Homo sapiens: one gene and its partners. The protein of the gene in region 4 purifies or fractionates together with the protein of the main gene of each other region. This does not show direct contact. Each region holds a gene or a part of one and is shown on either strand. Other genes may lie near its edges.

Region 1 (3,500 bases), on a different chromosome or scaffold from region 4:
TTTACTCAGGGTAAATCATGCTACCTGTCCCACAGGGTGGTTGTGAGGATTTAAGGAGACAGTGCACACACAGCACTGAGTCTATCTGAATCACACTAAGTGCTTAATAAATATTTATGGCCGGGTGCGGTGGCTCATGCCTGTAATCCCAGCACTTTGGGAGGCCGAGGCGGGTGGATCACTTGAGGTCAGGAGTTCGAAACTAGCCTGGCCAACACGGTGAAACCCCATCTCTACTAAAAATACAAAATTAGTTGGGTGTGGTGGCGCGTGCTTGTAATCCCAGCTACTCGGGAGGCTGAGGCAGGAGAACTGCTTGAACCTGGGAGGCGGAGGTTGCAGTGAGCCAAGATCGTGCCACTGCACTCTGGCCTGGGCAACAGAGTGAGACTCTGTCTCAAAAATAAATACATAAAAATTTATTATTACAATATGATTTATTATTACGTAATGCTATTCCCAAGCCATGGCAGAGGTAGTTCTGTAGGGGACTTTTATTAGGGGAGTTGTAATGACACTCTCAAGTACACTGAGAAGGACTTTCCCACAGTGCCTCAGGGTAAGTCACTCATGGAAGGCACTTCTTAGAGGTCTGTTTGTCCTAAAGGCTGGGAATTTAAGCCCTTTATGTTTCTTCTGTTCTGTTATCTGGCATTATTTCTTTAAAAAAGAAAGAAAAGAAAACATATACACACACCAGAAAGGAAGGGGTGGAGATAGCTGAAAACCTTTACCCCTAATGCAGTGTTTCAAATTGTGGGATAGTAGATGATAACTGATTTTGGTGGATCGTGAAGAGGGAGGAGCCGGGCACGGTGGCTCATGCCTATAATCCCAGCACTTTGGGAGGCTGAGGTGAGTGGATCACGAGGTCAGGAGATTGAGACCATCCTGGCTAACGCAGTGAAACTCCATCTCTACTAAAAATACAAAAAATTAGCTGGGAGTGGTAGCACACGCCTGTAGTCCCAGCTACTCAGGAGGCTAAGGCAGGAGAATCACTTGAACCCGGGAGGCGGAGGTGGCAGTGAGTGCCACTGCACTCCAGCCTGGGCAACAGAGCGTCTCAAAAAAAAAAAAGAAGAGGGAAGGATTAGCCACTAGGGAGGCTTAGGTGGGAGGATCACTTGAGTCTTGGAGGTGGAGGTTGCAGTGAGCTGTGACTGCACCACTGTACCATAGCTTAGGCGACAGAGTGAGACTGTGTCTCAAAAATAAATAAATAAATAAATAAAGAGGGAGGGAAGGAGGAAATAAGAAAGCAAAAAGAATAGAAAATATCAAAGTGTACTGCACAAAGTAAATCAAGTTAAGAGTTTTGTTTCATTACTATGTGTATGTCTAAATACTTATTTACAAATTCATACAGGTAAGTTGTATTGCTCTATAAGGTGATTTATAACTGTGGGTCACTGTGGAAAACCATTGCCCTAACAAATACAAAGTGCCTTACTTGCTAATTCCTGTAGAATGTAAAGTAAAATTTTTGGCAATTTATTCACCATTTAGTTCTATTACACTAAAATAATTTTAGAGGTCCCATGGACTATAAGATTACTATAAGGTTTACCAATAGAGAGAAATTTGGGTTTGGAGTACTAACAATTACAAATCATAACTATATTAGGAGTGATTTTAGAAAAGGAGACTTTGCTTTAAAATAAGGTTCCATTAGCACATTTAAAATAGAATTTCCTAAGAAAGAGATCATCAGAAACGTATATAGCATGCAACAAGAGTACATGTTCTAGAGGGAGACTTGCCCAGGGGAGAAATGAGTACAGGGAAAAGTTTCTGGTGAATTATTTGAATACCAACAACACACACAAGGTTTGACTCCCTCACATTCCTACAGCAGGTGGGAGGCAAGAGTACATTGAAACTGGGAAACCCCCCATAACTCTCAATATTCAGCCTCATTAATACAAATATTTCCATTTCCACCAAGCATGTTAGAAACACTGCCGTCAACAGAAACATTTTTGGCTAGATTGCTTGAATTAAAAATGTTAGTGTCCCAGTAGAGGGCAATATTCACTCCCAGAAACCTTGGGTACACAATTCAACACAGAACACAACACAAGCACTGAAGAGAAACTTCTTAGATACTCCCACACTGGTGTCCTGTCAGCTCAGTGCTCCAATTAATTCCACAAATGCTGCCAAGGCGGCAATGGGCTGGCTGCGTTTGTGGCTGATGATAAAATCTCGGCTCAGCTGTCTAGGAGTATCAAGAAATCTTTAAATCTGTGCTACTTGGCACTGGGTAGGACTGGCTGACACATTCCCAATTCTCTGAGGCTCGTCTTCCAACCATATGGGAACTCTGCTGTACAGCTCAGGCTCTGCAATGCCAGCGTCTAGCCCGGATCTTGATCAGGGCGTTTCATTCAGCCACCAGCACCCGTAGAACCCAGAGAGAATGCCCAAATCTCTCAGCTGGAGAATCTGACTGAACAAAAAGAAGCTGATGTTGGGTTACAAGTGAGGGGTAAATAGACTATTTAGGGAGACTCCAGGTGTCCATGCCCAGTGACATCCCAGGGAGTGGGACACCCTGGAGATGCTCCAAGTGCTAGACGTCTTCATCGCAACCCCAAATCCAAGAGTGGTCACTGAATTTAGTTCAATGAATGAGTGGCTCAAAAGTGCCCTGAGAGTCAGCACGCTGGAACACTCAGAAAGCAGCATGGCTTGGGGAAGCAGAGAGGCCATGTGAAACAGTGGTCAGTTGGGCTGGCATCTCCCTCCTGGAATCACAGTCGCATGAATGATGCTTATACCACTTTCATTTTCAACATTATTATTTTCATCATCATCATCAAATTTTTTTTTGAGACAGGATCTCACTCTGTTGCCCAGGCTGGAGTGCAGTGATGTGATCTTGGCTCACTGCAACCTTCGCCATCACTCCCCACCCTCCCCAGGCTCAAGTTATCCTCCCACCACAGCCTCCCAAGTAGTTGGGACCACAGGCACACACCACCATGGTCAGCTAATTTTTTTTGTATTTTTAGTAGAGACCCTGTACTTATTTTTCTATCCTGGGTATTAATTAGGGCAGGTCTCCCTCTAGAACATGTACTCTTGTTGCACAGTATATGAATTTCTAATGATCTCTTTCTGCACAAAATCCTATTTTAAATGTGCTCACCATGTTGTCCAGGCTGGCCTCGAACTCTTGAGCTCCAGTAATCGGCCCACCTTGGCTTCCCAAAGTGTTGGAATTACAAGTGTGAGCCACCACATCTGGCCAAAACAATTTTTTTTTAAATTAAATCAGAGACAGGGCTGCACTAAGTTGCCTATGTTCACAGGCGTGACCCCACTACTGATCAGCAGGGGAGTTCTGACCTGCTCTGTTTCTGACCTGAGCCGGTTCACCCCTCCTTAGGCAACCCAGTGGTACCCCTCACTAAGTTCAGCATCAATACGGTGACCTCCCAGGATCAAGCCAGACACAGTCTCTGCTCTCACGGCTCTTACTCTGTGGGTCATCC
Region 2 (3,500 bases), on a different chromosome or scaffold from region 4:
CTGGGCACAGTGGCTCACACCTGTAATCTCAGCACTTTGCGAGGCCGAGGTGGGTGGATCACTTGAGGTCAGGAGTTCGAGACCAGCCTGGCCAACATGGTGAAACCCCATCTCTACTAAAAATACAAAAAAATTAGCCGAGCCTTGTGGTTGCACACCTGTAATCCCAGCTACACAGGAAGCTGAGGCAGGAGAATCGCTTGTACCCAGGAAGTGGAGGTTGCAGTGAGCTGAGACCAGCCTGGGTGACAACAGTGAAACTCTATCTCGAAAAAAAAAAAAAAAACACACACACAATGAAGTCTCTTCTTTCCTTTATGATGGAGAAATGATCATATTCATTCTATTTTTTTCTTTTTACCATCTTAACTCCCGAGGAAAAACGTTTTATATTTTTATTATCAATGTTATAAATCCAATTCTAAGACTTTGCACACAAAAAATACCAAGGGAGATAGTATAATATCTCAAGCTTGTATTTTCCTGAAATTATTGGGAAAAAGTAGAACTAGACTTAAGTAGATAACAGGAAAATACAGTATTATGGTGTTTGTATACAAAAAATAATCCAAAACAGATAAAAACACACGCTCAAGATGGCACCCACATTATTCCAGAATAAAGTTATTTACATATATACAAACGATTATATGACTAAATAAATGAACATTTTCCTAAAACATGCATATTGTGAAGCCTTTTATAATTAAACCTATAAAATCAAACTAAATTGCATATTATCAACTGTCATGATTACAGCTTTCTGCACACCAGGAGAGTTAACATTTTAACATCTGTTCTACAAAACTGAAGATAAAATGTCATCAAACTCAGCATTTCTCTAGAAAATTTTATATACCTCAGCAACCTGTCATACTGCCTGTCGTCAAATAAATGGACTCTAAAATGTACTTATTCTTTTCAGAAAAAAATTTTTTTTGTAGAGAGGGGGGTCTTGCTATGTTGTCCAGGCTGGTCTTGAACTCCTGGCCTCAAGTGATCCTCTGGCCTCAGCCTCCCAAAGCACTGGGATTACAGTTGTCAACCACCACGCCAGGTCTCTTTTCTAAAACTTTAATTTCCACTATTGCTCTTTTGAAACCATTTTAATCAAGTCACATTTCTTAGAAAAAATTCACTCAGGGTTCTGAAGGAATTAGTTATTTTCTACAAGCAACTCTGTCATGAGTGATAGAGTTGTAGCTCTCTTAGAAGTTTTTTTCCTCTTTCAAAGAGAATGAGAAATATGCAGAGATTTCCTTACTGACTCACTAAATGTAAAGATTAAGAGGACATAATAAAATTTTGGACTACAGTAGCATATAGGTTTTCAGTTTATTTACTACTAACTAGCTATAACTTAGACAAGTCATTTAACATGCTGTGCTTTAGTTTCATCTTTGAAACAAAGAGATTCGAACAGAAATCTCTTAAGCTTCCTTCCAACTCTTACATGGTATGATTCTGTGCTTCTGCAGGAATTCTTAATTGATAAACTGAATCTTCCATAAATCAAGAGAACTGATGTGTACTAAAATAGCACAGCTGAACTAAACCTTTCCTTGTTAGGAAAAAAACACAAAGACCATGTTCAAAGCTTAACTTTCCAAACCTTACTAGACCCATTCCCTCTTCAGCCAACCAAAGAATAGCCCATAGAGTTAAAACCAAATATTTTAATTATATAAATTACTTTTAAAGTATAATGTAAACCCATTAAAATATATTAACTCTATGCCAGTTTTCCTACACTCTAATTTACAGTATTTTCATTTTATCTACATTCAAGATAATATGTACAGTTAAGGAAGGGGCTATTTAATATTCTTGCACTTCTAAACACTAGTAAAAGTTAAATAAAACACAGACGAAGAACAGAATATTAACAATTATCATATTGTGCCAAATTTTTAATGAAAGTATGCTGAGTACTATTTGTGGGCTAAAGAAACAAGGCAAAGGTAAAAAAGGAAATCCTGCTAACAAGTGCTGATGATCAAATGAATTTAGTTGTGTTTTTCCATAACTTAAAAAAGACAGGAGGGAGAGGATTTTAGCAGAAATCTATTTAGGTAATACTGAATCATGACATTCCAGCAGCTTTTATGAAAAACTAATGTATAAAGTAGTATTTTGGTACTAGTGCAGTGGAAATTGGTTTTTCTTTGTCTAACTATGGACAGCAAGTGAGGCACTTAACTTTAAAATAGAAAAATAGGGTATATTTAAGAAGACATTCAAAATCATTCAGAAAAGATAATTAGCACTATTGAAAAAAAGTTAGAAATTCCATTTTTATTTAACATGCATTCAATGTTACACATGTTTCACTAAGGAAAATCCTTCTGAAAGTAAGATTACTCTTTTATTTATAAGAAACAGAAAATATTTCCTTTTCAAGGGATTCTGGATTTCTAAGAATAAAATCCAAGTCGTCTCAACCTGAGTGCTACGTATTTATAAACTGAGAAAAATACGTCTTACCATACAGGAAAAATGTTATGACTATCAACAAATACCATGAGCTGGGAGCAGTGGCTCTTGCTTATAATCCCAGATACTCGGGAGGCTGAAGTGGGAGATCACTTGAGCCAGGAGTTCGAGGTTATAGTGAACTATGATCATGGCACCGCACCAACAGAGCCAGCCTCCATCTCTTTAAAAAACAATAACAACAAATGCCACGTACCATGTGATCCTCAACTTTATCCTTGAAGGATCAGATGCTTTTATTTTACATAACTTCAGAGAAGGGCACCTAATGACTACAACAGAATAATAGATATTTAGCACCTAAATTTAGAGATGCTTAAGTATTGCCATAGTTTTAAATAGCTGTATGTCTGTAAGTTGAGGGAAACCAAATACATGTTGTTAAACGATATTATCCTTAATTACAAATGCATCTACCTACAATATTCAAACACAATCTTATTTCTCCCTGAAGTTGCAGACATATATATATATATATATATCCCTTTTAACAAGTAAAGTGAGGTTTATTATTTCTTCACCATCATTAAATTGTCTTCCAAATGTGGAACTTTTTCAGGTTAGACAAAAAGTAGTTCCTAAAAAGTCATTCATATTCGACCAGTAGTATTACTTTAAATGTTCTTCACTATGGGACAGAGGTCAAAATTGAAGTGAATGGCCACGGACCTTCTGCTGAAATATATAAGTAAAAATAAGCAGGAACAGAGGAGATGAACATACATTAATTTCTGACAACATGTTGGCACAAAAATGCTTACCTATAGGGTGAAAAAGCACTTAATGAGAGGATAAATATTTGCCATGAGAGTATTTCAAGTGAATGGAGACTAGTGTTTCCTTTCTTCATATCTAAGTGAAATATTCTTGTGTTGCCTAAGTAAACTTGACTTTAATCCTGGATAGAACACTTTACTTCATATGTTAAAACTGATGCATGACATTAACTGAAGTTTTCCATGAGACAATTTAATCATCCCCATTGAGAAATCTTATAATCCTACCTT
Region 3 (3,164 bases), on a different chromosome or scaffold from region 4:
ATATTATTGTCTAGTATTTTTTGTTAGCCGAATGAAACATTACTCTTTTTATAAAGGCAATATTTGTGTTCATTTATGCATATTTACCCAATTCTTTACTATTCCTTCATGCTTCTCACACTTTTGCATATAGAATTATCTTCCTTCTTTCTGAAATACTACCTTGGAAGTTTTGTTAGATGATATAGGGATCTGGTGGTGATGAACTCTGTTTCTGTTTGTCGAAATACGTATTCAACTGTCGAACTTTCTGGCCCTCCAACTATGAGTAGCGTCTAAATTACCCCCCCACCGACAGTGCCCCCAGACCAGAGACGTGCGGGACAGCTCTGCTGCATGCATGGTCGTGCTCTCTGCTTGGCGGATGTGAGGCTATGGTGTAGAGGTGGGGTTAAAACTAGAGAGATACGTGCTCAGTAATGACACACGGCCCACTCCATGTACTGCAAAGAAACCTAGACAGTGTGGAAAGAGTAGAGAAAGTGATCCAGATACAGCACTTAAAACTGAGGGAACTCATGCTTTAATAGACACTGAAAATCACAAAGGAGGAAGGCCAAGTGCCTTAGCAATCTCAATAAAAATATGAAGTTCTTTTTACATGGTAAATTTCATAATATAAAAAGTTTAATGTCTGGAAATGGTGTAATTTACAAAAAAAGTCCACGTAGGCCAAAGATGGCTAACACTGCATATAAGGAACGTGAATGCCAGTGGGAAGGTGTCTGAGGAGGGGCAGGGCCACAGGTGTCCTGACAGGGAACATCTTTGAAGGATCTGGCACAAACAAGGGCCCAGTTCACAAACCACAGGTACACTCATTTTAGATAGAACAGCAGAATAGGTGATGAAAATTATACAGTTTTCACTTGTTGCCTACTTACTGAAAGCAAACCAGATTATTGCATGGCATTTTTCCAGCCTGAACTGAAATTATCAAGGCTACAGTTCTTCTTGTGGGTCTGCAAATGTGTGTGGCTGGGAGGTGGCAGAATCGGCACGGGCCAGGGACCGGCTGCAGTGATCATATGCTGGAGCGTCACTGGGACAGAGAGAGCAGGATGAGGACAGCGTGGGTGACACCTTTGTCTCCTGCTAAAACCCAGCAAGTTTCAGTGTGGACCGTGAATTTTTAAAAAATGGAATGGAGGTGAAAACTTTCATTTTGTGTTGCACATCAGTGTGGATCAAAATGTAAGTTTTAGTAGCAATTTTTCTCTTGATATTTTGACTTAATTAAAAAAATCAAATTAGTTGAGTCATTTACTGGAGAGAATTAAGAAAGCTTTGACTCCCTTGCTCTGTGGTCCTGCTGAGGTTTCTAAGAGAGGGGAGTTGTACGGCTTATAGTCATTGTATTTACATCTGATGGAGTAGCAGAGGGTGGGGCATGCCAGTTTCCTGAGCTAAAAGGAAATATATGCAATGCTTTCTGCAAATGGTAAGGAAAAAATTGTTTTGTAAATATTACATCCATGGACTCCTCCCAAGTGGGACAAAGAGCCAAGGGCTATGCAGGAGGCATTTGCTTCCATCCACGTGGCCCTCACATACCCTGGGCTCCCCGGACGCCAGTCAGTCTATCCACTACCTGACTTGCTTTTCCTAGACTGGAGAAACAAAACGTTATTCCATTTTCTGTCATCCATACCAGGAGTCAGCAAACTTCTTAAAAGGCCAGGTATTGGCTGGGCGCAGTGGCTCACCTGTAATCCCAGCAGTTTGGGAGGCCAAGGCGGGCGGATCCCCTGAGGTCAGGAGTTCGAGACCAGCCTGGCCAACATGGTGAAACCCCATCTCTATTAAAAATACAAAAATTAGCAAGGCATGGTAGTGGGTGCCTGTAGTCCCAGCTACTTAGAGGCTGAGGCAGGGAGAATTGCTTGAACCCAGGAGGAAGAGGTTGCAGTGAGCCAAAATCGCACCAGTGCACTCTATCCTGGGTGACAGAGCGAGACTCTGTCTCAAAAAAAAAAAAAAAGGCCAGGTATTGAATATTTTATGTGGTGTGGGCCAAAGGCAAAATCAAAAATATGATGTAATTACTTATATAACCCTTTAAAAAGGTAACTTAGCTCATGGCTGTGAAAAACCAGACCGCTGACCAGTCTTAGCCTGTGGGTCATAGTTGCCAACCCCTGATCTACACAAAGAAATCTTGGTGAATTATACAATTTCCTTTAATTCTAAGTGCATACTTTTTCCAGTGTAGCCTGAAACATTCACTGTGATTTTATGATTTTACATCCATTTTACTCATACAAGAACACCAAGACTGACATACACGTAAAGTGGCGGTGACTTTACAGTGGCCTCTAGACTGTTCTATCATTTTATCACTTTTGTTTTCCCTTCCTTGAAACTTATATTTAAGACAGAATAAAACCACATAAACCATTGGCTCTTCAGTATGAAACCTAAAACAACGATGTACATGGGACTAAAACCAGGTTAGAGTCCATGAGTAACTCCTAGCTGGCTCAATAACCACAGGAAGCGGCAGGGTGGTGGGGGTGTTTGCTAGAGAGGGGCAAATAGGGCCGCAGCCTTCCCCTCACAGAAAGAGAGCACAGACCCCAGAGCTTTACTCCAGGGATCCTTGGCACTTGGGAAAGAAGGAGGCTGAGAGATTTGCTAAGAGAGGGACAGCCTAACCATCTGCATATGGATTTAGAAACTTGAGGTTTACTTTTCATTGTTAAGAACCTGATTTTGCTATCTAATGCACAGTGCTATAAATTTGGTCTTCACTTGCTACACTGGTACTTTTATTACCATTTTTTCCCCTACTAACATAAAGAAACCCTCATAATTGCTGGCTTCTTTATAAAGTACTTCGCTTTCAGTGTTGGGATCAGGGCTAGAATAAGACATGCTTATTGTTGGCTTTTGTCAACATGGCTGTTGGTTAAATTAAAAACCCCTAGGATGGAGCTCAGGAGAACACAGATTGGATAAATATTATCCTTTCTTCTTTTCAGAGGAGTACACTGAGGAACAGGTGAGATTGTCAGTGTATGCGCAGAAGCTGAGATCCCACCCATGGTTAAAACCCCCACCTGGGGATCCTGAGGTCAGTGCCCCCTGCCAGGCCCCTCAGGTCTGCTCCATGTGCTGCTGGTGGCCCAGGCCAGGTGGCCGCCCACCTTCATGAGGAACCCTGT
Region 4 (3,500 bases):
CGCAGTGGGATAACAGCACGGGTTTAGGCCTCGGGAAATGTGTGCTCAGCCCTGCCCAGAGCCTTCTTACTGCCCTCCACATACCTATGTTGTACTTTTCAGCTGGCTGAGCGGATACCTACCTCACCCTGTCTGATGACCCTCATCTCTGCTGAAGGAGAGTCAAAGCAAAAAGCCCCAAAAGAAGAGAAGAGACCTCCCTGGGCCCCACCTCCTCAGCACAACTTTCTGAAAAACTGGCAGCGTAACACAGCCCTGCGGAAGAAGCAGCAGGAAGCCCTCAGCGGTGAGCAGAGCAGACAGGGCTCCCGCCCGGCCTCCATCTGGCAGCAAGGCTCTGCTGGGTTGTTTGCTCTCCTCCAGAGCCTGGCCTTGGGCTGACCACATTTGTGCTTTCACTCCCAAGAGTGTCTCACTCTGAAGCTTCAGTGGATCCTGAAATCAGCCCTGTGAGGGAGGCTGCCCGATGCAGACTGCCAAGGCCCCTGTTTGTTCTGGTTCGGCAGAGTGGCGGCAATCTTGCCTCTCTCTCTAGAACACCTAAAGAAGCCAGTGAGTGAGCTGCTCATGCACACCGGGGAGACCTACAGACGGATCCAGGAGGAGCGGGAGCTCATTGACTGCACACTTCCAACCCGGCGTGATAGGAAAGTGAGGCCACCTGTCCTAAGTGCCCGGGGGCAGGGGGGTCCATGGAGGAGGGGGCGGGGGCAGGTGTCTGGACACAGGGATGCTGGTCTCAGGTGGCACAGCTGGGGAGAAAAAACCTATCCATTGCAAAACATCATTAGGCCCTCAAGGCCTTTACTAAATTATATGATTAGTCAGTAAAGTTATTCAGCCTGTGGTGACCACACAGGTAGCAAGTTATTAGAGTAGTCTTAGTGTTTGTCTCCTAGGAGCTTAGACTGAGTGGAGCCTACACCCTAAAGAGAGAGGTTGAAGAGTCCCCCACCTTTTTTTCTGGTAGACCAGTGCAGTACCTGTACCAACCCACACCATCTGGCTGGGGGCAGGTAAAGATGACAACAGGGTGTCCAGAAAACACGGCAGTGGATGCTTCTGTTATGCAATCACGGCAGCAATGAATTCCCCAGAGGAAGCATCTGTAGCCTGTGGTGGTGCTCTTGTCTTCCCACATCTCCACCAGCATCTGGCTGAGGTGTCCTGGTAATCTGACTCACCTTTCCTTCCTTGCCAGAGCTGGGAGAACAGTGGGTTCTGGAGTCGACTGGAATACTTGGGAGATGAGATGACAGGTCTGGTCATGACCAAGACAAAAACTCAGCGTGGCCTCATGGAGCCCATCACTCACATCAGGAAGCCCCACTCCATCCGGGTGGAGACAGGTGAGGCGCAGGGCTGTAAGCCAGCTAGCATCTTGTGCCTGGCCCGGAGGCAGGGTAGTGTGGAAGTGGCCAGCATAGCTCTACAGTGAAACAGGCCCAGGGCCTGTTTCTCTGTGGTTCTCTGGGGTCTTAGGCAAGTCCCAGAGTCTTCCTGAAGTCCGGCTCCCTCTTCTTTTTCTTCAGTAAAACGGTGAGAGAGCTAGGAAACTGGAGTGCAGCCATAGAGCTGCCGTCCAGTGTGGAGCCTTGAGCCACATGCCGCTGGTGAGCGCCTGGATCGTGGCTGCCCTGCCTTGAGAAGTGCTGTCACTGTCAACTGGACACTGGCTTTAGTGTGAAAACAATATATTTTATTAATCATTTTTATATTGATTACATGTCAAAATGACAATATTTTTGATATACTGAATTAAATAAACTATATTACTAAAATGAGGGCGGGCACAGTGGCTCATGCCTATAATCCCAGCACTTTGGGAGGCTACGGCGGATAGATCACTTGAGGTCAGAAGTTCAAAACCAGCCTGGCCAACATGGTGAAACCCTGTCTCTACTAAAAATGCAAAAATTAGCTGGGCATGGTGGTGCGCGCCTAGAATCCCAGCTACTTGGGAGGCTGAGGCAGGAGAATTGCTTGAATCTGGGAGGTGGAGGTTGCAGTGAGCCAAGATCATGCCATTGCACTCCAGCCTGGGCAACAAGAGCAAAACTCTGTCTTAAAATAAATAAATAAATAAATAAATAAACAAACAAACAAACTATATTACTAAAATGAATCCCACCTGTTTCTTTTTTCCTTTTTCAGTGTGGCATCTAGAAAACTTTCAGTGACACGTGTGGCTTGTGCTTGTGGTTTGCATTCTGTTTCTCTTAAGCAGCACTGCTTTAGAGCCTGCCAGGCTGCCTGGGTTCAGGTCCCAGCTGTGTCGTGTTAGTGAACCCCAGAGTGGTTGAACCCCTCTGGCCTGTAGTTTCCTCATCTGTAAAATATGCACAGGGTTGTGATAGGGCTAAATGAGATATGAAATGTATTAAGAGGTTCTGGCTCATTGTTAAGCACTCAATAAAAGGTAGCTGCTGTTATTATTTTTATTATAATCCAAAGATTTGGCTATTTGGAAGCTAATTTTTCAGGAGTCTTGTGTAGGGCTGCTGAGGAGGTATAGGACAGGAGAACGGGAGTCTAGCTGCCACAGGGAAGCTGTATTTTTAGTCCTTCCTAGAAATGGTGTTGGGATAGGCACTCTCAGAGCCCTTGAGAAGTGGGTGAGCAAGGGGACATGGCAGCAGCCTGTGCTGAGGGTCCTTGGACCTCATGCTAGGATTACCAGCCCAGAGGGACGCTTCATACCGCTACACCTGGGATCGGAGTCTGTTTCTGATCTACCGACGCAAGGAGCTGCAGAGAATCATGGAAGAGCTGGATTTCAGCCAGCAGGTTGGTATGGCCTCCATGCCCCAGTCAGAAGCCCCTTGGGGCGATGCCTGTCTTCAGTCAGCTCATCTTACCTTTCTCCATCTCTCGGAGGATATTGATGGCCTGGAGGTGGTGGGCAAAGGGTGGCCCTTCTCGGCTGTTACTGTGGAAGACTACACAGTGTTTGAAAGAAGTCAGGGAAGCTCCTCTGAAGACACAGCATACTTGTGAGTGCAGCCTGAACCCTGGGGAGAGAGGCTGAAGAGTTCTCCAGCACCTACCAGTATTAAAGAGCGGGCTTCCCTCCCTGAGATCAGGGTGCCTCTAGCCTAGCTTCTGTCCAGTGGTTGCCACCCACTCCTTGAACCCATTCCAGCACCTGTGCTGGCTTTCCTATTGCCATCTGCTCCTTTCCAATAACCAACTCCTAATGGGGATTTCCCAGACATTCCCTTGCTGGTCAACTGAGGGCTCTCTAGACCCTCCCACTGCTATGCATCTTGAATGCCTCTGGCATGGAGAGTCTGTGTATTTCTGTGTACTGTGAGTGGCTCTGGCAAGAGGGCTTAAAGAGTCTGTGTGTTTCTAAGAATCTCCCATCTACAGCAATGGGTCAGGAGGAAGCTGCGTGGGAGTGGAGTTGATCATACTCCATTGCAGGGTAGAGCTGGTTGTGTTTCTAGGCTTCCTGGTGACCGTTTCTGTGGGGTTCCACATGGCATGACTGTGGCAGC

Evidence for each region. Proteins that work in one complex are often made in the same cells at the same time.
Region 1: the proteins of MYCBPAP (region 4) and BEND3 purify together in Homo sapiens (co-immunoprecipitation; one large-scale study listed by IntAct). This does not show direct contact.
Region 2: the proteins of MYCBPAP (region 4) and CEP97 purify together in Homo sapiens (affinity purification with mass spectrometry; one large-scale study listed by BioGRID and IntAct). This does not show direct contact.
Region 3: the proteins of MYCBPAP (region 4) and TTC28 purify together in Homo sapiens (affinity purification with mass spectrometry; one large-scale study listed by BioGRID and IntAct). This does not show direct contact.

Annotation. Positions count from the first base shown.
Region 1 is NC_000006.12:107,074,016-107,077,515, forward strand, and holds part of BEND3 (BEN domain-containing protein 3), read right to left. Parts: intron 1-3,500. UniProt on the Homo sapiens protein: Transcriptional repressor which associates with the NoRC (nucleolar remodeling complex) complex and plays a key role in repressing rDNA transcription.
Region 2 is NC_000003.12:101,766,114-101,769,613, reverse strand, and holds part of CEP97 (centrosomal protein of 97 kDa), read right to left. Parts: 3' UTR 1-3,500. UniProt on the Homo sapiens protein: Acts as a key negative regulator of ciliogenesis in collaboration with CCP110 by capping the mother centriole thereby preventing cilia formation. Required for recruitment of CCP110 to the centrosome.
Region 3 is NC_000022.11:27,977,514-27,980,677, forward strand, and holds the end of TTC28 (tetratricopeptide repeat protein 28), read right to left. Parts: 3' UTR 501-3,164; downstream 1-500. UniProt on the Homo sapiens protein: During mitosis, may be involved in the condensation of spindle midzone microtubules, leading to the formation of midbody.
Region 4 is NC_000017.11:50,518,439-50,521,938, forward strand, and holds part of MYCBPAP (MYCBP-associated protein), read left to right. Parts: intron 1-102; coding exon 103-286; intron 287-535; coding exon 536-651; intron 652-1,201; coding exon 1,202-1,349; intron 1,350-2,671; coding exon 2,672-2,787; intron 2,788-2,877; coding exon 2,878-2,993; intron 2,994-3,500. UniProt on the Homo sapiens protein: May play a role in spermatogenesis. May be involved in synaptic processes.